Homo sapiens: one gene and its partners. The protein of the gene in region 2 purifies or fractionates together with the protein of the main gene of each other region. This does not show direct contact. Each region holds a gene or a part of one and is shown on either strand. Other genes may lie near its edges.

Region 1 (8,178 bases), on a different chromosome or scaffold from region 2:
CTTATAAACAACTTAAATCAGTTTTCAAACTTTTTGACTACAATTTGCAGTAAGAAATACATATTACATCATTACCTAGTAAACATACATATGTATTTTTATGTACGTGTGTGTAATTAAAGCAGATCTTATAAAATGGTACTTACCCTTACAAAATAGATTTTGAAATTTCTCATTATGTGTGTTTCTATTCATTTCATTTAAAAAAAACCCTGTTGGTTGCAACCCACTAAATCAATTTCATGACTCCCTATTAGGATGGGACCCACAGTTTGAAAAACGTGAATTGATTCAAGCAGAGTGATACTGGTGACTGCTGAGCTGTTTTCATCCTGTTCAATCAACATTTGAATGGAGGTATAGAAGGAATGCTCCCAAATTTACACATAGACTAATAAGACAATAAATTATTTGCATGATATAATCAGGATTAAGAAATTCCTAGCAGATGAAATTTAATGGATAATTAAATAGAAAATTTGTATTAAATAATCTTTTTTTTTTGTTTTGAAACAGAGTCTTGGTTTCTTGCCCAGGCTAGAGTGCAGTGGCATGATCTCTGCTCACTGCAACTTCTGCTTCCCGGGTTCAACTGATCCTCCTGCCTCAGCCTCCTGAGTAGCTGGAATTACAGGTGGCCACCACCACACCTGGCTAGTTTTTGTATTTTTAGTAGAGATGGGGTTTCACCGTGTTTTCCAGGCTGATCTTCAACACCTGACCTCAAGTGACCCACCTGCCTTGGCCTCCCGAAGTGTTGGGATTACAAGCATGGACCACCATGCCTGGCCTTAAAATAAAATTTAAATTTAAATTGATATGTTCAATTTTGTACTTATATCTCAAAATCTACATGTAAAGCTACAAATTGTAGATATGCTGCTGCTAAAAAAACAGTAATAACAAAAGAAAACGCCTTAGTTTTTCAGGTCGATAATTATTTCATGCAGAAGCTATTGTGATTAATAAAGTAAAACTCTTTATTAATCCTAATTAATCCTGATGGTCTAATCTGTCCATCAAGATGGACCTTTACGAAGATTACCCATGTAAGGATGGACTGGAGAAGAGTGAGTGTGGAAAAGAGGAGACCAGGTATGAAGTGACTGGGATCTGAATCAGGGTGGCTGCAGTGAGGATGAAAAAAGTGGGATGAATGCGAGACCTATTACCAGGAAGAATGGGCAGATCTGTAACTAATTTAATGGTGATAATAATTTCAATATGAGAGGAGAATGGAACCAAAATTATTTGAGAACCTACTACGTGCCAAATGTGAATCATTACTACATTACACGAATCATTAGTGTCATGTTAAGAAAAAAATCCAAAACCAAAACAAACCAAACAGATCTAATTTGATTTGGGGCAACATTAACAGGAGCTATATTGCTAAAGGTTGAGGGTGAGGTAAGAATTTCCCTCTGTTTTATACAGGTCTAAACCCACATTGAATTTGGAGTATTCTGTTCAGATAAAGTTTAGAGGAAAGCAAGAAATGTGTTCTTTAAAGAACAGGTGAAGGAAACGGGAATAGTGTGGAGAACGGCTGTTTCCATCCATTCATTTTTGAACATATTTATTCAATGTAAATTATGTCAGGCAAGGTAGGTGCAAAAAAAAAAAAAACCCAAAAATAATGACACAAAATAACTGTGGGTATTTTCCGGCAGCCAATGAAGGGAAACATTATTGATTGCCACTTACTACTACATTAAGTACGTTAAATGTATTAGCTCCTTTAATCCTATAAAGTAGTATTATCATCCTTACTTTGGGTTGAGTAAACTGAAGCTTTGAAGCTAAAGTCATTTTCCCAACATCACACATATAAGTGGTGGTGGAACTAGAATCTAAATCCAGCTTCCATTGAATCTGGGGCATGACTTCTCAACCTCTCTGCAATATTGCTTCCTGAAACTCAGATTCACAGGTTTCTTATCTTTGAATGATTGTCCTTAGGAAGTATGGGTATGCAAAAATGCATACAAAATTAATATTCACCACATAAAATATATTTTTTAATCTGGAGATTTAAAAATATACATATTGGGTATCTTCTATTATTATGTAGCTTTTCTTTCAAAATATTGTTAATGTAAATGTAAAGTTATTTGCACATTTTCCGGGAAAAGGTTTTGTAGGCCAAAAAGAAATAGACCTGTTGACTTTTCTGAACTTTATGCTTTTGGGATGGTATGGAAGACATATAACTGTGCAATTATGCAGACTTGTATGTGGTTATAATTGGTATTACATGTGTTTATAGGTCATGCAACACACATGCCTGTATACTAAGGACACAAAGACACATTGACTATATGCTAGCTGCTCAGCTGAAATTATTTTATGGAATTCTTACTTCCCTATGAAACACATATTATCATTCCTACTTAAGGAACCAGGAGACTGAAACTCAAATAGCTTGAGTAGACTGCAAAGGTAGTAAGTTGTAACTATGACTCAAAGAATCATGCACTTTCCACAGTATCATAGCGCCTGCGAGGAGCTGATTGTCTACTGGAGAAAGATTTTTAATTGGTAAGCTCTTTTAAATATCTCTGAAATTGAATTAAGTAGGCAAAAGAAGTGGAGTTTTCCTACTTAGAAATGGTGATATTATCTTTACCCACTCACTATCTTCACTAAGAAAAATGAGCAGAAAAATACAACCAACTGCATATACATACTACTTAAGAAAAAATACAAGAAAAATCAAAATGGAAATGTTAAAAATGATGTTAAGCTATTCATTCAGAAAGGAAATAGAAAGTTCAGGTTGTCACTGTCTCTCAAAGTACTCATGCAAGAAGTCTAAAAATAGCAAAAGGTAGAACCTGCTGCCATATAGATATATGCACAGTGGGTAAAAAAACTTAGTGTGACAACCTTTCAGTCTAGATTTATGTATTTTACAAAGATATCATTTTAAATTTGCAAATGAAACAGTACTCTTAAAAGCAGATGATACTCACTTGGGACAGACAAAAATGTAGTAGAAGGATATAAACGTTACAGGATTTTTCAATTATATAGTATATCTCAAGTCATACTATTATGACTTGTATGTTTTGTAAATTTCCCGTACAGTTTCAAGCATTCTAGCATTTTATAATTCAATTGCCATTTAATTTAAATGGACATGCTAGTTACCACTGCTTTCAGAAGTGTTTGCTTAACTACTTTAACAATTCAATCACTTTGGTGCAAGTTTAAACAAACAGACATGCAACCAAGAATTCATCCTAAGTACTGGTTTTGAGGAACTTTTTTATAACCTGTGGTACTTAGAATTTTACCGTGTTCCCATATCCTGGGAGTTAACTTGACTGGCAGGTCCAATTAAATATGAATAATAACAAAACTGATTATGGTGGATTTGTATATTGACCTTTTTCATTTGAGAGGACAATTAAAACGATCTGAATATACCTCAAGATACCTAATATTTCTGGTGACTTGCAATAATCTTTATTGAAAAGGGAAGACCTCATGAAATATTAAAGAAAATTATATCATTCCTTTCAAGGAACAGTCATGCCTATTTAGTTTTAATTCAATACTAACAGCAAGATTACTGTGTACATTTTAATTTTTAAAAATTAAAGGTTTATTTTTTGTCTCGTATCTGTGCAGACATAGATATGTACTTTTCTCACAGACAAGGCTGGCAGTGAGAATCACCCATGTTTTTAGATAATTTCGAAAGTCCTCTGAATTGTACGTGCCTGTGAAAAAAGGAAACATTAATAATTGGCATCATACCTGAGGATTGTCAGGATTTTGAAAGTGTGGGATTTGTCGTTCCCACCAAACTACCCCACAGTGTCACACACTGCAGTCTTTTTAGGCTGGGAGGCGAGTTCAAGAGCTGTTTGTTGTTCCGAGCTTGATCCAGAGAGGATCACTGTTTGACAAGTTCTATTTTAAGTCGTGCCTGAGTGTGCAGGTGTCAGCCTCTTTCATGGCTGTAGAAAAAGCACCATTACACTCCGTCTGTATTCTTCCCCCGACAATGCAGGATCGCCCCCCCGCCCCCCCGCGCGTTTGTTTCTGCTTTGCCAGCCACTTTTTCTTTGGGAAATTCTAGGGAGGGCAGGCGGACAGGACTGCGAGGAAGGGCGAGGAGGGGCAGAAAGAGGTCGTCTGCCACTCCCCTACCTTACAAGGCACGTGGCACTGGCAGTAGCAGCAGCTGGATGCAACAACTGAGATGAGGAACCTCCTCCCAGCAAGAGGATATTGAGAGAAGGAGGAGGTGGCAGCGAAGGCAAGACATGCACACTGTGTCCTTCCCCAAAGGGAGAATCCGCCCTCAAGGGAAAAACCACAAGGAAGCCACTACCCGCCCCGCCTCTGCCAGCTTGCCCCAGTGTCTGGCAGCAGTCCCCATGCACCTGCTCACCTGTCTATCCGTTCGGGGTGGTTGGGGGAGGGACGAGGGGTGTCGGGGTGGGTGGGTGGGAAGAGAAGGAGGGCAGGGCAAAAGAGGGGGTGCACCGAGGGCTCCGCCCCCCCGGAGGCTGTGCGCAGGCGCAGTGGCTGCTACCGCAGGCAGGGGGCGGCAACATGGCGGAGTGAGCGGCGGCGTCGGGGCTTCACAACAACAGTGGTGGCCGTAGCAGCGGCGGCAGCAGCGTCAATAGCATCGGCCACAGCCTGAGCTTCAGCACCGGCCAGCGTCGTGGCCAGCTGCTCGCGTCCTCGGGCTTCTCGGAGCGGCTGCAGCATCTCCGCGGGGGGCGGGCCGGGCCGGACAGACCGGGAGAGGGAGAGAGCAGAGGCAGCGGCGGCGGCAGCGGCAGCGGCAGCGGCACACCTGCTGGGCGGGCACAGCCGCTTGCCCGGCAGCGGTTAGCGGTACCGCCACCGCCGAGAATAAGCCTGCGGATCCCCCGCCGCCTCCGCGGGGGAGAGCGCCGGAGCGGGCCGGGCTGAGGCGCAGGCGGGGAGCGGGCCCGGCGCCGCGGCGCTGGTGGATGCTGGGGCTCCGAGGCGACGGCCGGGGGGCGGGGGCCGAGGCAGGTATAACGGTACCGGCGGCGGCAGCGCCGCTGCTCTTCCCTTCTCCTCAGGAGGGGGGCCAATGGCTAGCGAGAAGCCGGGCCCGGGCCCGGGGCTCGAGCCTCAGCCCGTGGGGCTCATTGCCGTCGGGGCCGCTGGCGGAGGCGGCGGGGGCAGCGGTGGTGGCGGCACCGGGGGCAGCGGGATGGGGGAGCTAAGGGGGGCGTCCGGCTCCGGCTCGGTGATGCTCCCCGCGGGGATGATTAACCCTTCGGTGCCGATCCGCAACATCCGGATGAAATTCGCAGTGTTGATTGGACTCATACAGGTCGGAGAGGTCAGCAACAGGGACATCGTGGAGACGGTGCTCAACCTGGTAAGGAAAAGGCGTGCTCTCAATCTGCTTCCCCAGTCCCCACATACACCGTCCCCAGCGCCTTTCCCTCCCACCCTTCACCCCCAGGGTCACACGCGCCGCGCGTCCCTGGGAGCGCAGAGCGTTCAGCCGGTATTGCCCAGCGGGTGACCTGCCTGCGCGCTGCTAGAGCCACGCCACCTCCCTCCTCTCCTCTTTCTGGTCCTCTCCTGCCACCTGAGCGCAGTGCCCAACTTAACACCGCTTCTTCTCACTTTTTAGGACCGCGAGTAACCCAGTACCCGCGGTGAAGGTTTTGGGTCGACTTTAGAGTTTAGTTAGGAGGTGAGGAGGCCTCCTGTTCTCTGGGGTTCTTTTTCTCACACTTAATTGTCCTTGGTGTCGCTCTCCGAGGATGACAGCCTTGCCCCTGGAGCCTAAATTCCCCCGTGCTGCTGAAATGTGAGAAGCGCATTAGCTTCCAACTTGAGCAGCTGGGGTGTGATGTTTTCGAAGGAGACAGAAAATGATGCAGTTTTGCATCTGTCTTTAAATATTCCAAGGCCATGATGGAGAGTGTTGTGTCTGTATCCATCCCCCTCCATCTCAGAAGCAGCCGTCCCTTCTTTGTAATATTGCCCTGAATATACTGATCTCTTAGTCATTTTTTGTGCACACAAGGTGTGTGAGGACACCAAATCACACAGGTTGATTTCTGTGGTTACTTTCAGTAGTGTGGCATGTGGGTAAAGACTAAAGGAAAGGTTTTAAACGCAGCCCTAGGTTTTGGTTCCTTTCATGGTAAGAAAGAGTTACTGCAGAAGTGTGTATGACTTAATGTTTTGCGCTATCTACAGAGAGGCTCAGAAGCGTTTAAGATGTCAGGGAAAGAAATGGAAAGAAGGAGAGGAGAATCATACATTGAGGATAATTAACAGTAGTTCATATTTAGTGCTTTGTAAATGGAGGTTTTGTTTTGTTTTGTTTTGTTTTTAAATGCAGCCAAGCTTTTTAAACAGTTTTCTCTGCAATAGATCTAGTCTTTGACATACTGTAAGGTTGGGCTTTGGGAGGCAAGACATAAATCGAGAGCAATCAGTTGAGTATTGTATTTGGTGTGGGGTCACAGGAATATAACAATATGCTTACAGGGGTACTTTGTAACACCCATGCAGTCATTTTTCAGCTAAGCAATTATTTTTACTTACTCTATTGGAAAACTGAGAGAAAGCTGCAGCTACATCAGTGGTGTCCTGAGACATGCATTAGATAATGTCTACGGTTTATGAACCTCGTAAATGCACAGAAAAGTTGAAGCTGTTTTTTTCCTTTTGCTAGTGTGTCAGGTCAAAGGAGATTATCTGTCTTTGTTATATTCATTGCTGTTTAAAACAAAACACCTCTTTTTACTTTTTTGTACCTTTCAAATAAATCATCATGAAAAGTCAGTGTAAGTTTGAGGGAATGTCACTAAGTTGATATAACCAAGTTCTTTTCAGAACACTACTAGAAATACAGTTTTCTTGAGTTTTAATTTTAACTAGCTGCAAATAAGAGGTCAGTACTTGCCATTTCTTTTTAAAAGAAGATAAATCTCAAACTGTTAGTATGTTAGCAGGTAACTGTATTTCTGTAATTTAAAGGAACACATTTTTAGTTGCAGTTTTGATCTAACCAATATCATTTTTAAGTTAGATTATATTAGGCTATTTTAGTAAGTATTCCTATGCTTACTTAATACATTTTAACCTGGTAAGAGGCAGTAGAGCTTTCACAACCTGGAAACTGATTTGAATGTATAACCAGTTTGGACTCTGCAGCAGTAGCAATGTGTGCTGAATCAGTTCTTAACAGATGGGGTTTTTTAGATATACGGTAGACTAAGAAAGGAAGTGAAATGTTTCTCTTGAGATAAAAAAGAAATTTAACTCTTCAGAGCAATGAAAATCTGACATGAAGTTTCAGTATGCAGACGTTATTTTAGAGAACTTTACCATTAAGCTTAGAGTCACTAGAAATAAAGTAATACTGAGATAGTATATCCCCAAATCTACCTAAGATTTTGTAACTGCAATGATATTTGGAATTTAAAGAGTTAGGTTTAAAATTTCTTTGTATGTATTTAAAGAATGCAATAGATTTTTAAATAGAAACTTTTGGAGAAAAGAATAAATGACAAAAGGAGCTGTTTATTACTAAGTTGTTAATTATATTAATTGTGGAGTATAAATTAGTCATTTGAAGTGTAATTTTCTTGAACTGTAGATTTAGGGCTTTATTGTCCAATACACTCATGAAAATGTCATATGAAAATTTAAGTGGATTCTCAAAAATATGTGGAAGTCATGGGCATTTAAAAAACTGATTATCAAACTTAATTCTATTTATTTAGTAAGTAAACCAATAAAATTCATATAGGACACTCAGTGACTCGTTAGAGTTTGGAAACCTTTAATATTAAATCTAAAATGATTTTTTAAAATTTTCAGTTTTAGTTTAACACATTAAATAAAAATGTAAGGTGAAATAGTGAAATACCTATTACTGTGCCCTGAATGACAGAAAAGAAAGGAGAACTAATGAAACTTCAAAAAAAAGAGGAGTTTCTACCTTAAACAATACCTTTGTCTCAGTCGCCTTTGTCAGTATATTTTTCTTTCTTTTTCCTGTTTATTTTTTCTTCCTATGTAAGGATACTCATAAATACTTGGTTTTTAGGTGCTGTTTCTCACATGCCTTGGCCAAAGAATTAAAAGCTGGGCAGAGTGAAGTTTTAAGCATGCACTAAAGTGTAGGACTTCTTCAACAGAGCGGTGGCT
Region 2 (7,799 bases):
GCAAAGCCAGCATTTCAACCCATATGTAACCTCAGACTTTTAGCATGTTATTATTGCCAAGTACATATTAAACCTTGATCAACAGCACTCCATACAGTAAAACCTTAAGTGTAAAGAAACTTGGATCACAACATATTAGACAAAGAGGAAAATCAGATCCTAACACACATACATAACCTGATAGAAGGAATTTAGTTTAAAAAATTAAAAGCAAGCCAAACAAAATGTCCTGGTTTAGGTACACATTTAGCCCAATGCCTACGTATCTTCTACATTTGCTTCAGCAATGCTGTTCTTTGAGAAATGAGGTTCACAATGAAAACTCAGGCACACCACAGTACCATAAATTATTAAGGAAGAAAACATTACCTTTTATACAATAACATTTTAGAAAGCTTCTCAACCACAAGAATTGGAAGAAAATATTTTCTGCTTAAATTTCAGTTCGCTAGAACATTAACCCCAACATCACCTTTCCCCTTTGTCCCTCATCTGTACCCTGGCCCAACACACAGTCTGTTAGTTGTGATAACGGAATTGCTATCCATTTGGGGAGGGTTGGTGGAGACATCAATGACCAATTCAAGGATATGAGTTGCTAAATGATATTTTCTATGTTCTTTGCAACTTAGTTCTTCATTCAAAGCCAGTTAGGTAGGGACACCTATGTAGGTGGTTACATGCTCCAGTGATGGGTTAGTAATGCTGTTGTTCTAATGATTGTTATGCATAAATCTTCAGCAGATTTTTCCCTTGTGCTGTATTAGGTTGTAGGCATACTCTGTCTAAAACTTTATTCTTTTCATTATCCCCACGCTTCTCTGAAAAAATAGATATGTTTATCTATAAATGACATTTGTGATCTTACCTGTTGGTTGTCAAGATTCATCAATGTGAGACTGCATGTTGAGATGGTCAGTTTTATATTCATTCCTGAAAACTGAAGATTACTTTTGCCAAGGACTGTTGATAGGAACTTAACTGGAGGCTTTAAAAATTAAAGAAGAAAAACAAAACACTGTTAGGAATTTTGTTACAGAATAAATGTTAATGTTTTTTAAATGTTAAAAATGAGTCAAAGTCCAAACTCTTCCTCTCTATTTTACTTTATGTAAATCAAATGAAAGGGAATGGTTTTTATTAAATAAACTTTTTTTTAAATTAGGATGCAGCGAATTCTTTATTAAGTAGTGAAATTTAGGCCCTCAGAACTTTCTCATAGTTTCTCTCCTCCCCAGGTGCTGGGAGTGGGCTCCTGCTTTAATGTAAACAAATTCCTGTGAGAGTTTAGACCAGCTGAACTCTTGAGTCCTTTTCAATACTACAAATCTAAAAAAAGAAAAATTTGACAATCCACTGAATCTAATGCCACAGAAGGCATTGATGAACTCTCCAATTACGTAACTGCTTCCTTCTCTGAGGCCATCCCTGTTCCTCCCTCATCTTTCCCTTCCCAGAGTTAAAAAGTCCTCTCTACTAGTCTAATTGTTACCTTCAGATAATCATGATGCCTGAAATTCTACCACTGGGCACCCTTTTAGGTTAAACCATTGTTTTCAGAAGGTCCCAATTGTTAAACTGAACAAATATTACTAGGAAGGGGTTAGCCCATTCCACATTAACTCATTAATAAAGATGATTTACCAGAAATTACTAATAGAGATTTAGAGGCAGATCCTGAGGAAAGGGATATGTTTTGATAAAAGTCAAAATTCTGAACCAGTCATTTCTCAAGGAGAAGAAGTGTGGGGGTGTGGTGAAGAATCATGAGAGCAGGGGGTACCCAGGAATTATAAAGAAAAGCACTGGGGTCATATGTCAGGAAAAAGGTACCAACAGGGGGGCGAGAGGCTGGGCTGGCAGATTTCCTCAGGCAGAAATGCCACTTACCAACTGATGACCTTAGACAAATAAACTTTCTAAGCCTCAAATTCCTTTTATATAAAATGTGGGGGGAAAAACAGTAGCCACCTCATAAGGGCTGTTGTGAAGATTAAATAATAACTAGAGAACATTTAGCATAGTATTTGGCTGGTTACATGAGAGCTGTTATTATTATTATTACTTATTTTTGCCCTTCCTAACATTAAAAATTCTAAGAAATCATTTGAGAGATTTGAATGCTTTGATGGATGCTTGGATTAAGTCCTGAAATCCTCTACTGGAAAGTGGACCAGATGATGGAAATCAGTAATTCCTCAGCATATGAATCAATACTTTAAGGCAATCAATGAAAACACAATTTGTTTCTTTCCTAGTTTTGCTTTTATATTACTCTCATTTGATTCATTCTGGAGCCATACCAAACTGTTAAACACACACTGTTGAAATTTAATGTACAGTTTTATTTTTAATTCCAAGCACATTCTAAAATGTAGTGCAAACAGTGTGAGGAAGGAGCCCTCAACCTCACAGCTATCACCACATCATAAAGCTGACTCTTGGTCTACTTTCTTTGCTTCTTACACAGCTCTGGGCAAAGCGAGCCACACAGTTCAGGGATTTTGTGTTCCCACAGTGATTTTATTTAACAGCAAGCTGCTCATTTGCTTCTCTAGAGTTTCTTTTCCATGCTAGTTTAAAAAATATTATTGTGAGGCTGGGTGCGGTGGCTCACGCCTGTAATCCCAGCACTCTGGGAGGCCGAGGTGAGCAGATCATGAAGTCAGGAGTTCGAGACCAGCGTGACCAACATGGTGAAACCCCGTCTCTACTAAAAACACAAAAATTAGCCAGGCGTGGTGGCGCATGCCTGTAATCCCAGCTACTGAGGAGGCTGAGGTAGGAGAATCGCTTGAACCTGGGAGGCGGAGGTCACAGTGAGCCAAGATTGGGCCACTGTACTCCAGCCTGGGCGACAGAGCAAGACTGTCTCAAAATATATATATATATATTATTATGAAATACAAATTAAATTATAACACTGTCTCACAGTCGAAAAGCATTTTGTTATCTGTAAAGAACTTTTACGTAAATCATCTTAATTTTGTTCTCACCATAACCTTAATCTCGTGAGAAATGTCCAAAATGTATTTATTATATAGGAGACAAAGTCTTTCATGCCATCATTAGAAATGTCCTAACAGTTAAAAGACCGATGGAAGAAAAAGGAGCGGAAAGCACACAGGATGGGCAGTGAGGCAACTGGAATTCAAGTCCCAGGTTTGATCCTAACTTGTCAAGGGACCTTAGACAACTCCGGAACCCCCTCAATGTTTTTGTTTACCAAACAGGATTAATACTACTATCACTTCCATTCTTCCACCTCTAGCCATGGGAATCTTAGGAGAATCAAATTTAGTATTAATAATAAAGTATATGGAAATGCATAGTATACAGCGAAGTGCTAACAAACTGTAGTGGTTATAATTACTACTTTTAAAATGAATTTTGGCAATTTTGCTGTAGGATTTCTCCTTCGAGAAAGAGAAACTGCAGACCCTGGCCTTGGGAGAGGTCATTATGGGAATGAGAGGAGAAGGGAACAGAAAGAGAAGGCTGAGGATGGGATACTGACCAAATTTTACTAAAGAGTGGAGGCAGGCCTGGCAGAGGTGCTTATCCACATTTTACAAACGAGAAAAGTATTAAGATAGGGAAACATTAATTGACTATATCTGGGTCAATTTATTTGTACTGACATAGCAGCCTAGCTCTTCTACTCTATGTCGCATAGTCTCTCAGGAACCCCCAGTTCTTTTGGTTATTCATTAACTTTTAGACTTCAAAACTCATGGGAGATCACATAAATGAATAAATCATTTTTCCATTAGCACTCCAAACTGCTAATGATGCAGTATCTAACAGATCTAAAGAAATCAAACAAAGATCTGACTATATTCAACTGGTCCTAAATCGTTTTTGGCTCCCTCCCCCCAGGGCAGATGCTTGGCAAGGAAGCAGATAACATTGTGATTAAGTGTGTAAATGCTGGAGCCTGCCTGGGCTTGACCTAGCTCCTCCATACACTGACTGGGCCACTAAGCAAGTTACTTAACCTCTCAGGGCCCCAGTTTCCTCATCTGTAAAATGGGGATAAATAATAACACTAGTGGCTAGGTTTTTTGTGATGATTAACAAAGTATAAAAACCACCGCATACCAAAACTTATGGGATGCAGTGAAAACAGTGAGTGCTAGGAGGAAAAATCATAGATATAAACACTTTTATTTAAAAAGCAGAAAGGTCTTAAGTCAAAAACCTAACATTGTAACTTAAGGAACTAGAAAAAAACAAAAGCCAAAGCTAGCAGAAGGAAGGAAATCATAAAGATTAGAACACAGATAAAATAAATAGAAAATAGAAAAATAGATAAAATTAATTAAACCAAAAGTTGGTTCTCCCAAAAGATCGACAAAACTGACAAACCTTTAGCTAGATGAACTAAGGCAAAAAAGAGAAAAGACTCAAATTACTAAAATCAGAAATGAAAGTGAAGACATTACTACCAATTCTATAGAAATAAAAAGGATTGTAAGAGACTACTGTGAACAATTGTATGCCAACAAATTGGAGAATCTAGATGAAATGGACAAATTCCTAGAATACCTATCAAGATGAAATCATAAAGAAACTGAAAATGTGAATAGGCTTGGTGAGAATATGGAGAAATTAGAACCCTTGTGCATTATTGGTGGGAATGTAAAATGATACAGCTGCTGTAGAAAACAGTATGGCAGTTCCTAAAAAAATTAAAAAATAGAATAACCACATGATCCAGCCATTCTACTTCTGGGTATATACCCAAAATAATTGAAAGGAAGGTCTCTAAAAGATTTTGTAACTCATGTTCATAGCAGCATTATTCATAATAGCTAAGCTGTGGAAGCAACCCGGTGTCCATCTACAGATGAATAGATAAGCAAAATGGGTATATACATACAATGCAAAATTATTCAGCCATAAAAAGGAAGTAAATTCTGACATCTGCTATGACATGGATGAACCTTGAGGACATTATGCTAAGTGAATTAAGCCAGTCATAAAAGGACCAATACTGTATGATTCCACTCATATGAAGTACCTAGAGTACTCAAAATCATAGAGACAGAAAGTAGAATTTTGGTTGCCAGGGGCCGGGGCGATAGGGGACTGGGGAGTTCTTGTTTAATGTGTAGAGTTTCAGTTTTGCAAGATCAAAAGAGTTCTAAAGATGGATGATGGCGATGGCTGCACAAAAATATGAATGTACTTAATACCACTGAACTGTACACTTAAAAAGGGTTAAGATGAGGCTGGGAGTGGTAGCTCACACCTATGATCCCAGCACTTTGGGAGGCTGAGATGGGCAGATCACTTGAGGCCAGGGAGTTAGAGACCAGCCTGGCCAAAATGGTAAAACCTCATTTCTACTAAAAATACAAAAATCAGCCAGGCATGGTGGCACATGATTGCAATCCCAGATACTCGGGAGGCTGAGGCATTGAGAATCGTTTGAACCCCCAGGAGGCAGAGGTTGCAGTGAGCCACTGCACTCCAGCCTGGGTGACAGAGTGAAACTGTCAAAAAAAAAAAAAAAAAAAAAGTTAAGATGGTAAATTTTATGTTATGGATATTTTACCACAATAAAGTGGAGAGAAAAGAAAAGAAAAAAGCCTAAAGTGCTGGAAAGAGTCCCTGGCTCATACTAAGTACTCAATACATGCCAGCTGTTGAAGGAAACTAGCTGCTTTTCTGTTTTTCTCTGCAAGTGTACTTTCCGGATAGATGATAGCCAGGTTTGCTCTGTTTTATTTTGGGATGGGGAATCCCTGCTCCTTAAATGAGAATATCTTGCCTGGTAGCTGGAATCATCCAGTTGAAGCATCCTAATCAGAAATTATGAGAAGCAGGAAGAGGTTAGAGATTACTTTGGAACCATGGGTTCTGTGAAAGAAACTAGTCAAAGGGAGTCCTTGATGGAATTTAAGAGCCATTTGTCAGAATGTTTCATACCGTGTGGATTCTCTAGGTGACACTGGGTTCAGCCCTATGTAATATAATGAAGAATGATAACCAAAAATGGGGCAGAATGGTATAGAAATAGAGCCCTAAGCTGGGAATCTGAAGACTTGGCTTCTACAGCTGGCTCTGACCTTAATCATCCTAGTGACTCAGGCAAATATCATCTCTTGTCTCAGACTCAGTTTAGTAGCTGGCAAAATGAAAAGGTTAGACCAGAAGATCTCTTAAAAAACCCTTCTCCGCCGGGTGCGGTGGCTCACGCCTGTGGCCCCAGCACTTTGGTAGGCCGAGGCAGGCGGATCATGAGGTCAGGAGATCAAGACCATCCTGGCTAACACAGTGAAACCCCGTCTCTACTAAAAATACAAAAAATTAGCCGGGTGTGGTGGCGGGCTCCTGTGGTCCCAGCTACTCGGGGGGCTGAGGCAGGAGAATGGCTTGAATCCGGGAGGCGGAGCTTGCAGTGAGCCGAGATCGCACCATTGCACTCCAACCTGGGCAACAGAGCGAGACTCCGTCTCAAAAACAAAAAACAAAACAAAAACAAAAAACCCTTCCCTTAAACAGTCTGCAATTCTATATGATTTATATAGTTATCTCAAGAGCTTTTGCATTGGCCCTTTGGACTTTTCAAACCAACAAAATATTCTAGGGCTCATAGCTTAATAGCAATAATACTAGCTACCATTAACACAGAAAGTGTAATAGATGCCAGACGCTGTGGTAGATAGTATGTAGACATCACTTCGTTTATTTCTTACATAACTCTATAAAGTAAGTGCTATTTTCTCCCATTTTACAGATGAGTAAACCAAGGATCCAAGAGGTTAAGTAACTTGTCCAAGAGTACACCATTTGTAGGTGGCTGAGGCAGGACTTTAATCCGAGTCTGTCTAACATCAAAACTTTTGCTTTCTTTCCACAGGGAAAGCTACTGTACCCATGTGCTATTACCTCACCTTTACCACTATCCATATTTATACTAGAAAATAGGCCAGGAAGCCTAAAAAGTCTAAAATGTTATAATGCAGAATACATACATTATAAAATGTGGAAATTGGAAGGCACTAAACTGGCCATTTAGTGCAACTCCCTAACTCCACAGGAAATAAGAACAGAGTCTCAGCAAGATGAGATCCCATGCTCACTGGTCAGTAACAGCCAACTCTGGCACCCTACATTTCTGACATAAAGCCCAGGGCTTTCTCCCCTCTGCAGCTGGAGGTATCACCACGTCGGACAGTGTCAGGCAACTCGGAAAGATTTGAGGGACAAGAGCAGTTTTGAGTGCAGCTCTGATATCACGCCACCTAATAAAGGCCAGGCTGGACCTTGGTCATATGGTGGGATGAACGAACAGCGATTTTCATACTATCTTTGCCATAATTAGGGAAACATAAACAAGAAAACCACATCATCATTTACCTTTCGCTTTTTAATGGCTCCATTTGCCCCGGGGACAGCTTCACACAGGCGACTTATTGCTTCCCTAAAGAACAGAAACCATATAAATAAAGACTTAGCATACTACCTCCACACAGTAAGTGTTTAAGAAATGTTAGAAATTATCACGACCAAAAAGTACACATACATAATAGTGAGTCTAACACAAATGGTATTCTCCCAGCCCCACAGGAGGAAATGCTGTACTTACTCCTTCTGCAGGAAAACCTAGCAGCACCCTAATACTGAGCAATTGCTTTACAACAAGGAGCTCTACTATTCGCTTTTTTCATCTCTGTTTTTCCTTGGGTTTTCAGATTTTGTTTATTGTGTTGTTGATTTTTAACCAAAAAGGAGGGGCAGGGCATTGTCATCTGGAAATACTTCGCAGTTTTATCTTTAGCAAAATCATC
Region 3 (7,672 bases), on a different chromosome or scaffold from region 2:
TTCATTCTCTTAATCGTTTTTATGTCCCTATGTTTATTATGCTTTATAAACAGATTTGTTTAATTCCATCTGTTCATCTTTTAACCTACTTTTAGTTTATTCACATCTTAATAGAGCCCAGGAGGTCAAGGCTGCAGTGAGCCATGATCCTGCCACTGCACTCCAGCCTGGGCTATAGAGGGATCCTGTCTTTAAAGTGTTAAAGATAACAGTTTACGTACTACATATAACATATTAACTTATTTATTCTTCACAACTTCCATGAGCTATGTACCATTATTGTCTCCATTTTACAGATGAGGAAACAGCTCACACAGCTATTAAATGCTGTTTGAATTCAAATCTTGTTATTCCAGAGGCTATGCACTTAATCACGTCATTTGAGTAAAACATGTCACGCTTTATTCTTCTAGATGACCGATTATCCTTCCCTGGGGTCTCTGGGGCTGGCCCCATGTCCCCACCGACCGGACTCCGTCCATGATACTCTCTTTGCTAGGCTGTTGATTTTAGGTGATTCAAGGAACACCTACTATTTCAGGCTTTTTTAAACATCCTGGTAAATAACCTAACCACTTGAGTGGTCACTGAAAAATGTTCCAACGAAGGTTATCACGGGACCTTAGTTAAATCAACATATTTTTCAGTTCTTGCTTAACTTGCTTTATCTACAACAGTTACAATGTGGCAGTGTACTACCAATAGTTGTTCAATGAATGTTACATGTCCACAAAATGGATGGCACTAAATCATCTACACAAGGGAATATTTTGTCCTTCAAAGTTTAACTTTGGCCATGATTTTAAAAGCCACACTGGAGCAGTAAAACAATTTGGGCTGATTAAAGTACAAAGTAAAAAGGGTTCTTAAACATTTAAAGAAAGCAGGCTGCTTTGTAAAAAGCCTCTTCCTCCTCTCTCCACTTTGACTCAGGAAGCTCTAAACAGCCAAACCGCCAAGAACTTGGGGAGAACAAAATCTTCTTCCCTTTATTAAGAACATGTACTTACTATTATTTAAGGGCTCAAACATTTAAAAAGCCAAAGTGACAACTTCTGTTATTCGTTTTCTAGGACTGTTCTTACCCAAGATTTTCTAGGTTCTTGCCAAGATTTTCTAGGTTAATTATCCTGATCACAATCGTTTTACCAAACGTCTATCACAAATACCATCTTTCTCATCTGTGAAATGAAGGAAATACTAAGCTTCTCCATGACCAAAGTCCGCTTCCTATAATCTCACGTGAGCCTGGCACGTAGTAAGCGCTATAGACATTTTAAGTGTCACACGAAGCTTGAAAAAAATGAGACGTGTGACATTTTAGCTATGACTAGTATTTTTTTCTACAATGGAATCGTTCAAGATACACTGCTAGAAACCGGGTTTCCCGTCGTGCCTTAAAGTCTCGGTAGCACGTGTCTGCCTGGATTCCCTTTTCCAGTTGCTTTTTGTCAAGGGACAGCTCCAAGAACAGCTAACACTCCTAAAACGCCCATTGGTCCACACCCTGGGGCCAGGCTCTGAGTGCGGCCCAGGAGCCCATTGGTCGCCGCCTCTCAATGAAGCTGGCCACGCCAGTTACTCCGCTGCACCGCCACCCTAGCCGCACTCGTGCGCAGAGGAGCCAGGGATCCGGTGGCAGGGCCTAGGAAGGCCATTGGTGGCCACCGGTGCGACCGCCGCCAGGAACAAGGCCTAAGCATCCACGGGATCTCTGGGCTTTTATATAAGCATGGATTTCCACAGCAATACCAACTAAAACGCCTCTTCGGCGCGGTCAGCCCAAGTATCTCTCGCGTGACGGCCCGCAGTGGGAGTGGGCCCCAGATTCCTTTGCTCAAGCTTAAGGCATTAGAGGCATTATGTCCTGGGGCAGGCGGGCCTCCCTCCACCCGCACCTCTCCCGCCCCGCTCCGCCGGCTCCGTAGCAGGTTACACAACCCAAGGTCAAGAGATTGGGGAGCAGCCCCCAGCGGCCTCAGCGGCCGTGTCGAGGGCGGCCCCGGGGACTGCGCCGTCTGCCCAGCCGCCCCGAAAAGGCTCTGGCGCAGAGCATGTTAGGGGAGCGGTGGGGCCCCGCCACTGCGACATAACTGCTCCCGCCCAATCCCCGCCGCCCGAACGCCACATGCTGCCCGCGGCCGCCGCGGGTGGGAGGCCTCTTCGCCAGCCCCTCAGACAAGGCCGGGAGGGCCCCTCCTATCCGCGCCCGAGGCAAGAACAAGCGCCGCTCCCGCCCTCCATTCCCCGAAGCCGGCACGCCCGAATTAGCGCCTGACTAAGCCCGCCGAGCCACACCTGCCGGAGGCAACCCGCGCAGGCGCCCCCGACCCCCACCTGGGGCCCCTGCCGCCAACTACTACGGAGGGAAATGTCGGGAGGCGCGGGCCGCAAAACCACCCCGGGCCGCGCCGCCCGCCGCCCAGCGCGGGACGTTACCTGAGCACGCGGCCGCGCCGGCCTCCTCCCCTCCCCCAGGGCAATGCCAGGCGCGGCAACCACGGCGGGAGAAGCCGGCTCCGGCCCGCGTGGACATGGCCGCTCTCCCCCAAACCGCGCACCTTCCAAGGCCGCCGAAGCGACCCCAGGCCGCAGACTTGCCCCCAACTGAAAGCTGAGGGAACTCGGGCTCCACCCGTGGCTGGTGCCTCGGCGGCGGCGACAGCCCCCAGGCCCGGATGTCAGCGAGCGCCCCGGGGACCCACCTTGGGATAGTGCGAAGATCCCCAGATCCTTGGTTTGCGTCGGGCTGCTGCCGGGAGAACCAAACCTCCAGCAGCTTCTCGGTCCCTTCGAAAAAATGTGCAGCTTCCATCACCGTGAGACTAGCGAACAACCAACAACCACAGAAAATCAACTAAATTAAACCTCTTCTCCCGCCGCTGCCGCCGCCGCTGCGGATTGTTCCAGCTGTGTTACTAAAGTTCAGGTTCCTTTTTTTTTTTGCTATAATTTTATATTAACTTTTTTTAAAAAAAGGACTAATAAAATTTTCCCGGCTTTGTGTGAGCGAAAGTTGAACGTGAGTCTTTTGGAAATAGAGGCAGATACAGTTCAGTCTCTTGTATTCCGCTGCTTTCCCGTTAGAGAGAGTAGAGCGAGCGCTAGCTAATGTCGCCGGCCATACTGTGTAAGCGAGAGCGCTGCGTGAGCACCGCCCTTATATATCCCGGCTCCCCCCAAAAGACCAGGAAGTGACGCATCGTCCCACCTCCACGGCCTATAGCTGCTGCCGCCTGTCAATCACTCGCGGCCGAGTGGCGGCTGGCTGGCCGAGGGCCTGGCGGAGAGCGCGGGGAGCTGCCCACTGCGCTGCGGCTCGGGCTCTGGCCGGCTCCTGAGTGGGAGTTGGTGCTGTGATGTCCAGCTGGGGACTAGAAACCTCGGATCGAACGCAGAGTGGGTGGGGAGAGCGGGAACGGAATGAGGAAAGGCTGTGCAGAGCTGTTTAGAAAAAAAAAATGATTAGCAGAAAACATGGGTGGGTCCTTAGGGGTGTTGGCGGGGTTCAGCGGGGACGGTGGCCAGCGCTGGGTTGGCGTGGTGGTTTTGATCTTGTGCAGTTCACCGCGACTGCTGAGGTACTTGGCCATTCTTAAAAGTGTGTTTTCCCAAGGCGAACGCAGCCAGGCGTTAAAACTAAACATTTGTCCGTGACGCGCACGTTGCCAGGGGTCGAATTAGAAGGCGCTTTAATTCTGCTCACGCCTTGGCTGATGTGCGAATGAAAGCAGTCCTCGGCTGGTTTATACAATAGCCAGAAGCATTGTCTTCCTATTTCAGAAGAGAAAAGCAACGTGGCGCCCAGCCTTGGAGGGCCCCGGCTTTACCCACCTCCCACCGTGTGGCTCGCCATGCCTCCGAATTGGCTGAGCACAGCAGCCTCCGGGAAGCACTGGCAGCTCCGTTGCTCCATTAGCTCAACTGGTGGGAATTTATTCAGCAAAACTACTTCTAGAAACTGAATGTGTTAAATATAATCTGAACTTATTTGATCATGTTTTTCTTTGAATTTTATCAAGCTGATGTATTAATTGATGGAGGTTCTCCTTACCCCCCAAAATTTACAGTGCTATCTTCCCATGTGCTTAAGAAGGATTTACCTGGAAATTAATAAAACAGGGATTCCAGAGCTATCACTGGTGGTAACTTAAATAACTATCAGTCTAATATTTTATAAGTGTTAAGTATAAAATAGTCGTCAAGCCATGGTCAAACAGTTTAACCTCAGATGGCAAAACTGGTAACAAAGTTATTACTTTTACTTGGGAATATGGGAGGAAAAAAACCCAAGCTGACATAAAAATTGCTATTGTCACAAGACAAAAGGACTTTTCGCTATCATCCTTAGAAAAAAACTTTCCCCAAAGTGAAATAAGATGATGTCAACATGAAAAATCCACTGAAAAAGACATGGTTTGGGTTTGCACTCTAGATACCCTGTAGAATAGCTCTTGTCTTACAAGAACGTGGTTCACGTGTCTCCGTGAAACCTGTTGAAAGAAGCTATGTTGTGAGCTAGGTACATAAACTACTCTTGCTTTGTTTTGTTTGTCTGAGACGGAGTCTCGCTCTGTTGCCCAGGCTGGAGTTCAGTGGCGTGATCTCGGCTCACTGCAACCTCTGCCTCCTGGGTTCAAGCGATTCTCCTGCCTTAGCCTCCCGAGTAGCTGGGATTACAGGTGCATGCCAACACACCCGGCCAATTTTTGTATTTTAGTAGAGACGAGGTTTCACCATGTTTGCCAGGCTTGTCTTGAACTCCTGACCTCAGGTGATCTGCCCACTTCGGCCTCCCAAAGTGCTGGGAGGCCACCGCACCCAGCCCTCTTGCCATGTTTTATAAGCATCCAACTCAAACTGCGGATTGGGACAAAAGATAATAAATGTTGCTTATTTTATAATGATAAAAGAATGTGGTTACTCTACTTGGAATAAAGATAAAAGAAGTATTTCTGTGTTTTACAAGCTGTTCAATTATTTGATGGTTCTTACTGAAGAATCTGCCTACTAAACCACCTCAAACACTAATTGTGGTATAAACATAATTTGGCTTATAATTGCTTATAATTAGTTGCTTCTCAACTACTATTATGCTTTTTTCCCAGTGCAATTTAAGTTAATATAAAAGTGCCAAGAATCTTGGCAAAGTAAATCCTTATTAATTTGATATAGGATAATTTAAATAGTCTACCAACTGGATTGGTCCTTTGTAAAATATATCATTTTTCTTGTTATCTTGAAGCTCAAAATTCCTTGTATACTCTGGTTTCTCTTCAGATCATAGAAATAATAAAAATAAAAATCCCTTGTACTAAGTTGGTTAATCTTTGCTTAAATATTTTCCTGAACTCAATATGTCCAAAATACATTTACCATTATTTCTAAAATGATTTCCCTTCTCAGCCCCATTTCTATCAAGAGTGACCATCTTTCCCCCAGATTTCCAGTTTTTTAAAAATGCCTCATTGGCTATAGCACTTTGCACATAAAACACTTAAAGGACTCCCATTCACTAGGCCTTCTTAAGATACCTCTGATTGTACATCTTCCCTTTATTCTCTTTAGTAATCATTCCTATTAAGATCTTACTCAAATTTTAAAAAAATCCTTACTTGACCCCACTTCTACCTTCAGTTATCACCGAATTTCTCTGCTTCCCTTAACAGCAAAACTCCCTAAAAGATGTAAAGACATGTCTATATGTGTGGTCCCTACCTCCTCATCTCTCCTTCAAATTCTCCAAATGGGTATTTATTCCTAGCACTTGACTGAAATGGCAATTCTCAAGGCCCACTTTTTGCCAAAGCCAGTGGTTGCCAAAGCCATTGAGACCAGTGAATGGTCTCAATCCCCATTTACTCAATCTTTCAATGGCTTCTGACACAATTAACTATGCCTTCCTTCTAGAAAAAAGTCTCCAGGCTTTCGTGACATCTCTCTTTTTTGGTTTTCCTTGGAAATTTTCTTCCCAATGCTGCAGTGCTCTTGGCTATGCCTGTGTCCTCTTTTCTACATACATTTTCTCCCTAGGTGACCTACCTCATCCAGTCCATGGCTTTATGACCTGCCCATAGTATTAATGACTTTCAAATTTATATCTCCAACCCAGACATCTCCCTTGAATTTCAAACCTTTGAGACACTTGCCTGACTACTTGAATGCCTAACAAGCATATAGAAGCTAACATTATTAGAAAAGAGCTGTTACTTTTCACAGCAAAATCTGCCTCCTCCCCACAAAAGCAAAACAAATTACAAAAACTCAGCTGTCTTCAACTCAAGCTTTCCACTGACCTCTTTGTCTCCACTCTTATCTCTTCTTACCTCTTTATGGTCCACCCTTTACACAACAAATCACCTCGTTATACAGCAGTTGCTTAAACTCAAAATCATCAATGATTCCACTCTTTCCTGCATTGTCCTACATCCAACTCATCATTAGCCTTGTTGATATTTCTAAAACATTTCAAGAATTTGTTCTCTCTGTCTTCATTTCTACCACCACCCTAGTTCAGAGCACAAAATTAGCTCCCCTGAACTATTGCAGTAGCTTTCTAACTATAGTAGTGTTTGTCTTCACTTTGCCACCTCACTTGGTTTAACACAGAGCAGCTAGAGTGATTTTTTTTGTTTTAATTTTTTAAATGTCTCCATAGCCCAAGATGGAATGATGTTTTTAAAAAATAAGCCCAATTATGACACTTATTAAAATTCTCCAGGGGTTTCCCATTACAATTGAAATCAAAATTTCTTACCCTGGCCTTCAAACCCTTATTTGATTTGGTCCTGAATTAATTATCCTCCAACCTCATCTCTACCATTCACTTTCTGTACTCCATCCGTACTGACCTGTCTCCCTTTAGGTCATTTTCATTTATCTGAAATGCTCTTTCTCTCCCTCTTGGTATGGCTTATTCATTCTTGTCATTTAGATCTTAGCTTAAATGTTGCCTCTTCTGAGAAGTCACTAAGCTACTATAGCAAAGAGATCCCCAAATACAATAACTCAAAGATTAAGGTTTATTTCTCTCTCACATAACAGTACAGAGGTAGACAGGTAGTCTAGGGTGAGTAGGCAGCTCTGTTCCATGAGATCATTCAGGGAACCAGGTTCCTTCTAACCCATTTTGACCATAGAGTAAAGTCTTTATTCTCATTATTGAAGCTGGCTTAATCTGTCCACAGTCTAGCCTGGAAGAAGAGGAAAAAAAGAAAGGAACAAAAACCACTTTCCTTATAAAAACAAGATATGGAAACTTTTTTTGTTGTTTTTGTTTTGTTATTGTTTTTGTTTTGAGGCAGGGTCTCACTCTGTCACCCAGGCTGGGGTGCAGTGGCTCCATCTTAACTCACTGTTGCCTCAACTTCCCCGGGCTCAAGTGATCCTCCCACCTCAGCCTCCCACGTAGCTGGGACTACAGGCAAGTGCCACCATGCCTGGCTAATTTTTGTATTTTTAGTAGCGACCAGATTTCACCATGTTCCCCAGGCTGGTCTTGAACTCCTGGACTGATGATCTGCCCACCTCAACCTCCCAGAGTGCTGGCATTACAAGTGTGAGCCACCACACCTGGCCTTAGATTCAATTTAAAGTGACCAAGTAGTGTGCTGGAACTGGCTTCCTACTGTTTCTGAGAACTAATCGTTACACTCTCAGAAATTTGGGGAGT
Region 4 (8,091 bases), on a different chromosome or scaffold from region 2:
GAAAGACAGTCCCTGGCTAATGCCTTTTGCAGTATCTATATCCTCATTTTCTATGAAATTAAGTGTAAAGCCCTTGGCATGGCATAGAAGGTTCTTCCCTTACGTGGCTGGGTCAGGGTATCAAATGAAGAGTTCGTTTGGGTTTTAGAGTGGCTTTCTGATTTGAGTAGTCCATTGAAGGAGAGAATTTGAAAGCTGTTCTATACTCTTAATGACTGTCTGCACATGTCCTGCCTGATACCATGGTTGTTTATGAAAAGTATCTTTTTTTTTTTTGAGACGGAGTCTTGCTCTGTCGTCAGGCTGGAGTTAAGTGGCGCAATTTCAGGTCACTGCAACCTCCGCCTCCTGGGTTCAAGCGATTCCCCTGCCTGAGCCTCCCAAGTAGCTGGGATTACAGGCACGCGCAACCATGTCTAGCTAATTTTTTGTATTTTAGTAGAGATGGGGTTTCACCATGTCAGCCAAGATAGTCTCGATCTCCTGACCTCGTGATCCGTCCGCCTCGGCCTCCCTAAGTGTTGGGATTACAGGCGTGAGCCACTGGGCCCGGCTGAAAAGTATCTTAATAAAGCTGGATACAAGGTCAAGCGTGGTAGCTCCCAGCACTTTGAGAGGTCTAGGTGGGTAGACTGCTTGAGCCCAGGAATTCAAGACCTGCCTGGGCAACATAGCAAGACCTGGTTTCTACAAAAAATAAAAAAGATTAGCCAGGCATGGTGGCATATGAGTGTAGTCCTAGCTACTTGGGAGGTTGAGGCAAGAAGATCACTTGAGCCCAGGAGTTGGCGGCTGCAGTGAGCCATGATAGTGCCACTGCATCCAGCCTAGGCCACAGAGAGAGACCCTGTCTCAAAAAAATAAATAAATAAAATAAAAAATGAAATGAAAAAATAAAGTAAATAAAATTTTAAAGCTGTATACCATTTGGCTTGGGGAAAAAAAGGAGTTGCAGTGACCTACAAAATAATATAGAGTGAGAAGTTGACTCAGTGCATTGATTACTCAATTCAACAAACATTAATTGAGCACTTGCTGTGTGCCAGGCATGGTAATAGGAGCTGGTAAAACAGAGGTAAAAAAAAAAAAAAACTCTTTGTGTCCACAGTCAATTGTTGTCTAGTAGGCAAAGCTAATATAGGAAGATAATTAATCAGAGTGCAACTAGTACAGTCAAAAGAGGGTATTGCAGGTGCAATGGTAACACAGAAAAAGGAATCTCCTTGGAGGAGGAGATACAGCAGCTCATGGAATGCAGGAAGCTGGAGCTGGAATGAAGTTTTCACAGTAAGAGAAAAGGAGAAAGGCATTCTAAGCTGAGAGAACAAGCTCTACAAGGGTATGCATTACCATGATACATTTGGGCAACTACAAGCAGGTGCTACCCCAGATCATAGGGTATTAGAAGGTAGCCAAACAGGAGTGAGGTTAGGGAGGCAGACCCAGCCACATAAGGGAAGAACCTTCTACGCCATGCCAAGGGCTCTACACTTAATTTCATAGACAATGACGATATAGATACTGCAAAAAGCATTAGCTAGGGACTGTCTTTCAAGTTAGCTCTGGGGATCACATGGCAATTAAGTGAAAGGGGAAAGAATGGGGAGACCTAAAAAATCACTAGGGCTGTGAACTTTGATATTGCACTTGACTGCTAGAATATTATGTGAGCCAGGACACTCTGATATGAGGAAAACCAATATGTAATATTTTTATCTTGCAAAGCTGATAATGCAGAGAATTAACAAGTTATGCATGTATAAACAGTAGACTCACAGTTAGGAAGCTGGCAAGTGTCTGTCACTTGAGTCCTGTAGTGTCATTTACCTGATTCACCTTTGGGCTTATCAATAGCATATACAGAGTCTTCATGATCACTGCCTGGGTCTGCTGGGTAGGAGGCGGGTTCACTGTGGAATAAATTAACCCCACAGACTCTAGATTTGCAATGAAGTCCCCCAGCTAGGTTTGTCATTTAAAAAGTGTTCTTCTACTCCTTGCCTGATATAACTATTTTCCCAAATCTAATCATTTCTTATTTTTCAAATCTATTCAAATCGTCAGCATTTATCTCTTCATCTTTTCTATAAATTTTGCCCTTTAAAGCCAATGGTTTTTAATAATAATAGCAAATGTTAATACTTCCATAGCACTTCCTATGCATCTGGCACTATTCTAAATGCTAAATGTATATTAAATGATTAAATTCTCATATCAACCCTATGAGATGAGTACTATTATTATCTTCATTTTTCAGAGGAGGAAACAGCAAGTTTCCCATGACATTAAATAGAAGCAGAGCCACTAATCAAATCCAAGCCATCTGGCTCTGGAGCTGATATTTTAATTCACAAATCTCAGTTTGTAAAGGTACTTAGTAGGAACAAGGGACCAGTGCATCAATTGTTGCCTTAAAGAAAACTTTTCTTGGATGTTCCTTTTCATAAACTTCAAAGTCCTGTAAGCTTTGCCCCTGCACCAAGTTGTAATGCTTTTGTATACACAGTTTGCATTGTTCCAACAACCTTAAGAAACATGTTTGGAAGTACAGTTCAGCCAGACTGAAAGATTACCCCTCTCAACTGCTTTTTGTTTTTGTTTTCGGCAGTTTAACCAAAACTCTCCATCTCACAAATAAAATCCTTCTGTAAGAGTTCTTCCAGGACATGAAACTTACTAAGAATTTGCAGCTCACTAAAATTTCTTCCTTTTAATACTCAAGATTGAAATAAAACCTTTTCTGCAAGGTCAGCAATAACAGATCTAATGTAAGTCCTTTATTGATTTTTAAAAAGTTGATTACATTAATCTTTTTACTTTTTATCTTGTCTTTAGGTCAAAAGTCACCAGTCCTTTTGTGAGAGGAAACTACTTCTCTTATTCTCTGAAGCTTTTAAAGAGAATATAAAAGTAACAAAGTCATTTTTTTAAAAATCAGCCTACCATATAAGGGTTTAGGATCTACTTACAGGTTGAAAGACCCTTGACCCTGCCCAATCTTAGATGTTTCCTATGTCATTTTTGGATTCTGAGCTTTATTTCCAGAAGTGATTAATTATTCAGAAAAAGAAATTAGCTGGCACTTAAATCTTTAAAGTTTTGAAACTTTTTTTTTTCAGACAGAGTTTCGCTCTTGTTGCCCAGGCCAGCGTGCAATGGCACGATCTCGGCTCACTGCAACCTCCGCCTCCCGGGTTCAAGCGATTCTCCTGCCTCAGCCTCCTGAGTAGCTGGGATTACAGGCACCTGCCCCCACGCCCGGCTAACTTTCTGTATTTTTAGTAGAGACGGGAGACGGGGTTTCACCACGTTGGCCAAGCTGGTCTCAAACTCCTGACCTCAGGTGATCCGCCCGCCTCGGCCTCCCAAAGTGCTGGGATTACAGGCGTGAGCCACCGCGCCCGGCCGAAACACTCTATGTGAGCAATTCTTAGAACTTTATGGACTTCTGATTCTGCATACACTCTATAGTAAAATACTTCCCACTTTTTTCCAAGACTTTTTCAAAAAATCAATGTGAATGACCCAAAGGTCAAAACTTTCAGATGAATTTTGTGAAAATTATCGCTAATGCTTCAAAGTGAGAGGATCAGGAAGGTGGGTGTAGAAGAATCTGTGTTTTTCTTCAAATGTTAATGGAGTGGTTTATTAGCACAGACCTTTTAAGCCAGGCCACGAAAAGGCAGCGGGATGTTTTCAAGTCCCCTTGGGCTGGCGAAGCGGGTACTTGCTGTACCTTATCAAGCACTGAACATTGAATACGTGTTGAAAACAGAGCAGATACGCAACCTTAGCAACCACTCACCTCTGCTATTTTAACAAAATGTTAAGCAAGCGAAAGAAAGAGAAAGAAAGACAGAAAGAAAGAAAGCAGATTAGCATACAAGGCAGGACATGCCACCTTTATATTCTGAGCTCTGTCCACAGTGAGCAGGCCGTGTCAAACATCGGGAGAGACAGAGAATGATTGATCATGCAAAGCAAACTGTAGGTTTGAATCCCAGCACGGCCATCTACGAGTTATAAAATCTTGCCAAACTACCTAATGTCTTGGTACATATACCTAGAAAACGAGAATGATCCCAACCTTTAAGATGAGAAGAGAACTGAATGGGAAAAGCGGGTGAGAACAGCTGACCCCAGCAGCCTCCCAGTAACCTAGTTTTCCCTTCCCATCTCCGTGTCTACGGTGTTTGGTGGCCTCATCAACTCCCGTCGCCTCCAGCAGCTCGTTCACTCAGTGAAGGTCCTAGACCGAATGGCCACCTTCCTGTATGTGGGTACTCATCACCCACCACCTTTCCGCTTTTCGGTGCTTTGCCCTTTTTATCTTATCTAGTAGCCAAAGCTGAGACTGTTGGGAGTCATTTCCAGCTCCGATGGTAGAGGAGTAGGGTTGAGGGGAAACGCCAAGGCGTGCTCCACGCCTGCCGTCCGCAGCCCCGTTGGGCTGTGGTACTCTTCTGACCAAAGTCTGGGTCACCGGGAAGCAAGAGGGAGCGCCACTAAAGGTATCTTTTGTGCCTTGTATTTAGCCACCGCATTGCCAGGATGGGAGTGGAGGCGGACGGTGCCCGACACCACGACTCAGGGAGCGATACCTGAGCTCGCTCGGCAATTCCCGGGCTCCGGGGACGGGCCTGGGCGGGGAAGGAGCCGGGGCGCGCAGCAGCACCCGGCGAGACTGCAGGGCGCCCGAGTGGTCGGACGGGGGAGCGAGAGCTAAAGCTTGCGGAGCGCGCCGAGCCGCGGGCGCTGGCGGCCCCGGCCGGGGAGCTGACGCGAGCCTGCCGGGCCGCGGGAGCTGCGGGAGGCGGAGGCCGAGCTGGGGGCGGAGCGGGCGGCGCCTGGGAGGCGGAGGCGGTGTCTCCCAGAGCTGCGCAGGCGTTGCTCGCACCTTGTTGATTAGTCAGTGCTGGGAGCGCTGCTATGGCGTTTCTCAGACCCGCGGCTCCTCCTCACACGCTCGAGGCGGAGGGAAGGAGGGGTAAGAGGAGGAGGAGGCGAGCGGGCGGCCGCCGCAGCTGCAGACCCAGGGCCAGAGGAGGAGGCGGAGCGGGAGCCGCCGCAGCCACCCGGGCCGCCGCCGCCGCCCGCAGCCGCGCGGCTGCTCTGAGTCTTCTCCGGGCGTGAGGGCACGCGGGGCGCCCCAGCCATGCCCCGCAGCGGCAGCTGAGCCGGGCGCCGGCCCCCTCCCTCCGGGCCGCCCCAGTCGCCGCGCCCCCCCGGCTGCCCGCGGCCGGAGCTGCCCGGCGCCTCCCGCGCGCCCCAGACCGCGAGCGCGAGCAGCGGCGGCCGCCGAGGCGCGGGTGGTGCCGGTGGCGGCGGCGGGGGAGCGCGGGACAGGAGGCTTCGGGGAAGATGGACCCGGCGCCCTCGCTGGGCTGCAGCCTCAAGGATGTGAAGTGGAGCTCGGTGGCCGTGCCGCTCGACCTCCTGGTCAGCACTTACCGGCTGCCCCAGATCGCGCGCCTGGACAACGGTGAGTCCCAGCTGGGGCGCGGGGCAGACGGGCGAGGACAGCCGTCTCCACGCGGGTGTGCGCGCGTGTGCTGGAGAGGGTGGGACCCGCGGGGAGTGGGCTGCCCGCCCCTGAGCGCCGGAGTTGGCCCGAGCGGCTGCCGCAGCCCTGGCGCGTTGCTCTCAACTCCCCCCAGCAGCAGACAAGGAGGTGGAAATCAGAGTCCTTGCAGTATAATTAAAAAGGACGCCCTAAAAAAAAAGTCAACATAGGGAGACCTCTGCAGATCGTAATCTTGGACGCCAGATATCCCTCCCCACCCTCCTGCAAGAATTACTCAACCAGGGAAACCCTGAAGAGTTATCTTAGGCAACTTTCTTGAGAATATCATTGTGCTCCGGGTGGCATCTTAATTTGGGTGCTCTCCTCCCTATCTCCCCCATCCCCCGCCAAACAGATTTAAAGGAAAAGCTCCTGGGTGACCATTGAAAAGGATCACATTTCTCAGAGACCTTGTATTACAGCTTGTCTGTTTTGTTTAACCCAACTGAAAGTAATTTGGGGCTGTGTGTAGAAAATGTTTTCAGCAGAAGTGATGGCATGCTTAAGGTTAACTATTAGGTTTAGCGCATTTCCAGTCTGGAAAAAAAAATAAGTCTCCAAAACGTATTGATTCGGAACCTGAGCTCAGAACTAAGAAGGGTGTATTTCCTGAAACTGACCACCAGAAACCCACCCAACTCCTTCCTCCAACTGTTTATTCTGCGGTGTGACAGCTGCAAACACATAGTTGCGCATACTGTCAAGCAAGTAGACACCTTTCAGTTGGAGAGTGATGACACGTAAGGTGGCAATTTAGGTGTGTTTGGTCTTCTCTTGTTTTCATCATAACTTCAGTGGGCTTTGGCGTCATGCGATTTTAGACTGTTTGCAGAAAGAAGCCTGCCCTGCTGTGGGGCAGCTGTGGAAGTACACGGGCCCAGGCTGGCAGGCAGGCAGAGCTGTGACTACACAGGCCAGGTCAGAAGAACACTAAGCAGAAAGATGTCATTTCGAGTCACAGGCACTAGGGTTACTCCTTGTTTCCTGGGGTAGAAGAGTGGGTAACGTGAGATGTATACATACACAAAGGAGTTTTTATTCTGTTTCTTATCTGTGGGGTTTGATTAGACATTTGTATATCTGATGTGAAAAATAGATGCAGGAAAGTTCGTGAAGGCTGGAAAACAATCTTGGCTTGCTTGCTATCCTCGTTTGATTGTTGGTAGTAGTAGGGTGCATTGGGAATAAGCTGGAAGTTTTAAAACTAGTAATGAAGTGCAGATCACAGTAGCTGTTGAAGCGGTGGGGTGGGGGCGGGGGGGGGGGACGCACAGGTGGTGTGTTGAGGCGTTTCTGCTTCGAGTGGGGGTGGGAAAATGTTGTGTGCTTTAAATAGCATCTGCAGACCTGAACTGGTGTGTGTGTTTGTATTCACAGCGTTTCATTTCCTCCTCCAAAATTGTGTATATTGGCAGATTGTGAGTCCTTACCTTTTCCTACCTTCTCTCATCTCTGCACACTGCCACATTTGCTAGCTAGGCAGAGAGCATTGCTGCATGTGGTGTAAAAGCCACTCAAAAGCTTCATTAAACTGAAAGTTTAAAGGGGTGGAATATCTCACTTTCCGACATGACTTTCAGTTTTATTTCCCACTTTTCTATCCCTGCCATTCATAAAAAGGATCTGAATCAGCAGTGTACTCATCCCACACTTCTTTCTAAAATGAGGACGTGGGTAGCAAGTCTTAACACTGTGTCCTTTCAAGCTGTGGAATGGATTTTGATCACTATATGTAATTCCAATTCTTCATTGTAAATTTCTCTTATTTCCTTATTGCCGCTTGAGAATCATAGTGGCACATACAAATTTGGAATCATTGCCAGATACTGCTTTATACCTTGCTTCTTTCACTTAACAATCCCATCTCATTTAAATATTTTTGTCAACATGATTTTTAATAGCTGCCAAAGAGTCCATGGGCTAAGCTATGCCAAGTAATTTCATCCCCTATTGTGGACATTATTAAGCTGTATTATTTTGTGCTATTAAAAATTGTGATGTAATGAATACTGTTGTACATACATCTGGGAGTTTTTTGGTTAGAATGTATTTCTACTTTGCTGAACAAGCATGTCAGTCCTATTAAAATCCTTGATACACATTGTCAAATTGCTTTAGAGACTAAAGGAAATCCTCGTTTACACCAACGTGAGCATTGTGATAGTATCAGTCTGCCCACATCCTGAAAATATTAAGTATTTACCAAAAAATTCTCTTCTAATTTGATTGGGGAAAGTGTTGTTATAGCAGTTTAATTTGGGTAGACTTTAAAAGAGTCAATCATAGATTCTTTGCATGTTTTTAAACATGTTTCACACAGTTTAGGACAGGTTGAGGACATGCTGGTATATTTATAAATGTTATAGGTGAAATCTTAAGTTTTGTGTTGTCCTCATCCTGTGTTTGCCTTTTCCCCAGTTTTAGTACTGCAGGTACATTTTACATCTGCACACGCCCACCCTATACTTAGACATGAAAGATAGTCATTTTTCAAATCACTTGTTTTTAAAGAGACTAGAACAAAATTG

Evidence for each region.
Region 1: the proteins of SHC4 (region 2) and NBEA purify together in Homo sapiens (affinity purification with mass spectrometry; 2 studies listed by BioGRID and IntAct, with this or other methods). This does not show direct contact.
Region 3: the proteins of SHC4 (region 2) and AMD1 purify together in Homo sapiens (affinity purification with mass spectrometry; 2 studies listed by BioGRID and IntAct, with this or other methods). This does not show direct contact.
Region 4: the proteins of SHC4 (region 2) and GAREM1 purify together in Homo sapiens (affinity purification with mass spectrometry; 2 studies listed by BioGRID and IntAct, with this or other methods). This does not show direct contact.

Annotation. Positions count from the first base shown.
Region 1 is NC_000013.11:34,937,735-34,945,912, forward strand, and holds the start of NBEA (neurobeachin), read left to right. Parts: upstream 1-4,535; 5' UTR 4,536-5,086; coding exon 5,087-5,380; intron 5,381-8,178. UniProt on the Homo sapiens protein: Binds to type II regulatory subunits of protein kinase A and anchors/targets them to the membrane. May anchor the kinase to cytoskeletal and/or organelle-associated proteins.
Region 2 is NC_000015.10:48,883,380-48,891,178, forward strand, and holds part of SHC4 (SHC-transforming protein 4), read right to left. Parts: intron 7,433-7,799; coding exon 7,369-7,432; intron 989-7,368; coding exon 869-988; intron 1-868. UniProt on the Homo sapiens protein: Activates both Ras-dependent and Ras-independent migratory pathways in melanomas. Contributes to the early phases of agrin-induced tyrosine phosphorylation of CHRNB1.
Region 3 is NC_000006.12:110,870,249-110,877,920, reverse strand, and holds the start of AMD1 (S-adenosylmethionine decarboxylase proenzyme), read right to left. Parts: upstream 3,137-7,672; 5' UTR 2,816-3,136; coding exon 2,706-2,815; intron 1-2,705.
Region 4 is NC_000018.10:32,467,699-32,475,789, reverse strand, and holds the start of GAREM1 (GRB2-associated and regulator of MAPK protein 1), read left to right. Parts: upstream 1-4,907; 5' UTR 4,908-5,361; coding exon 5,362-5,482; intron 5,483-8,091.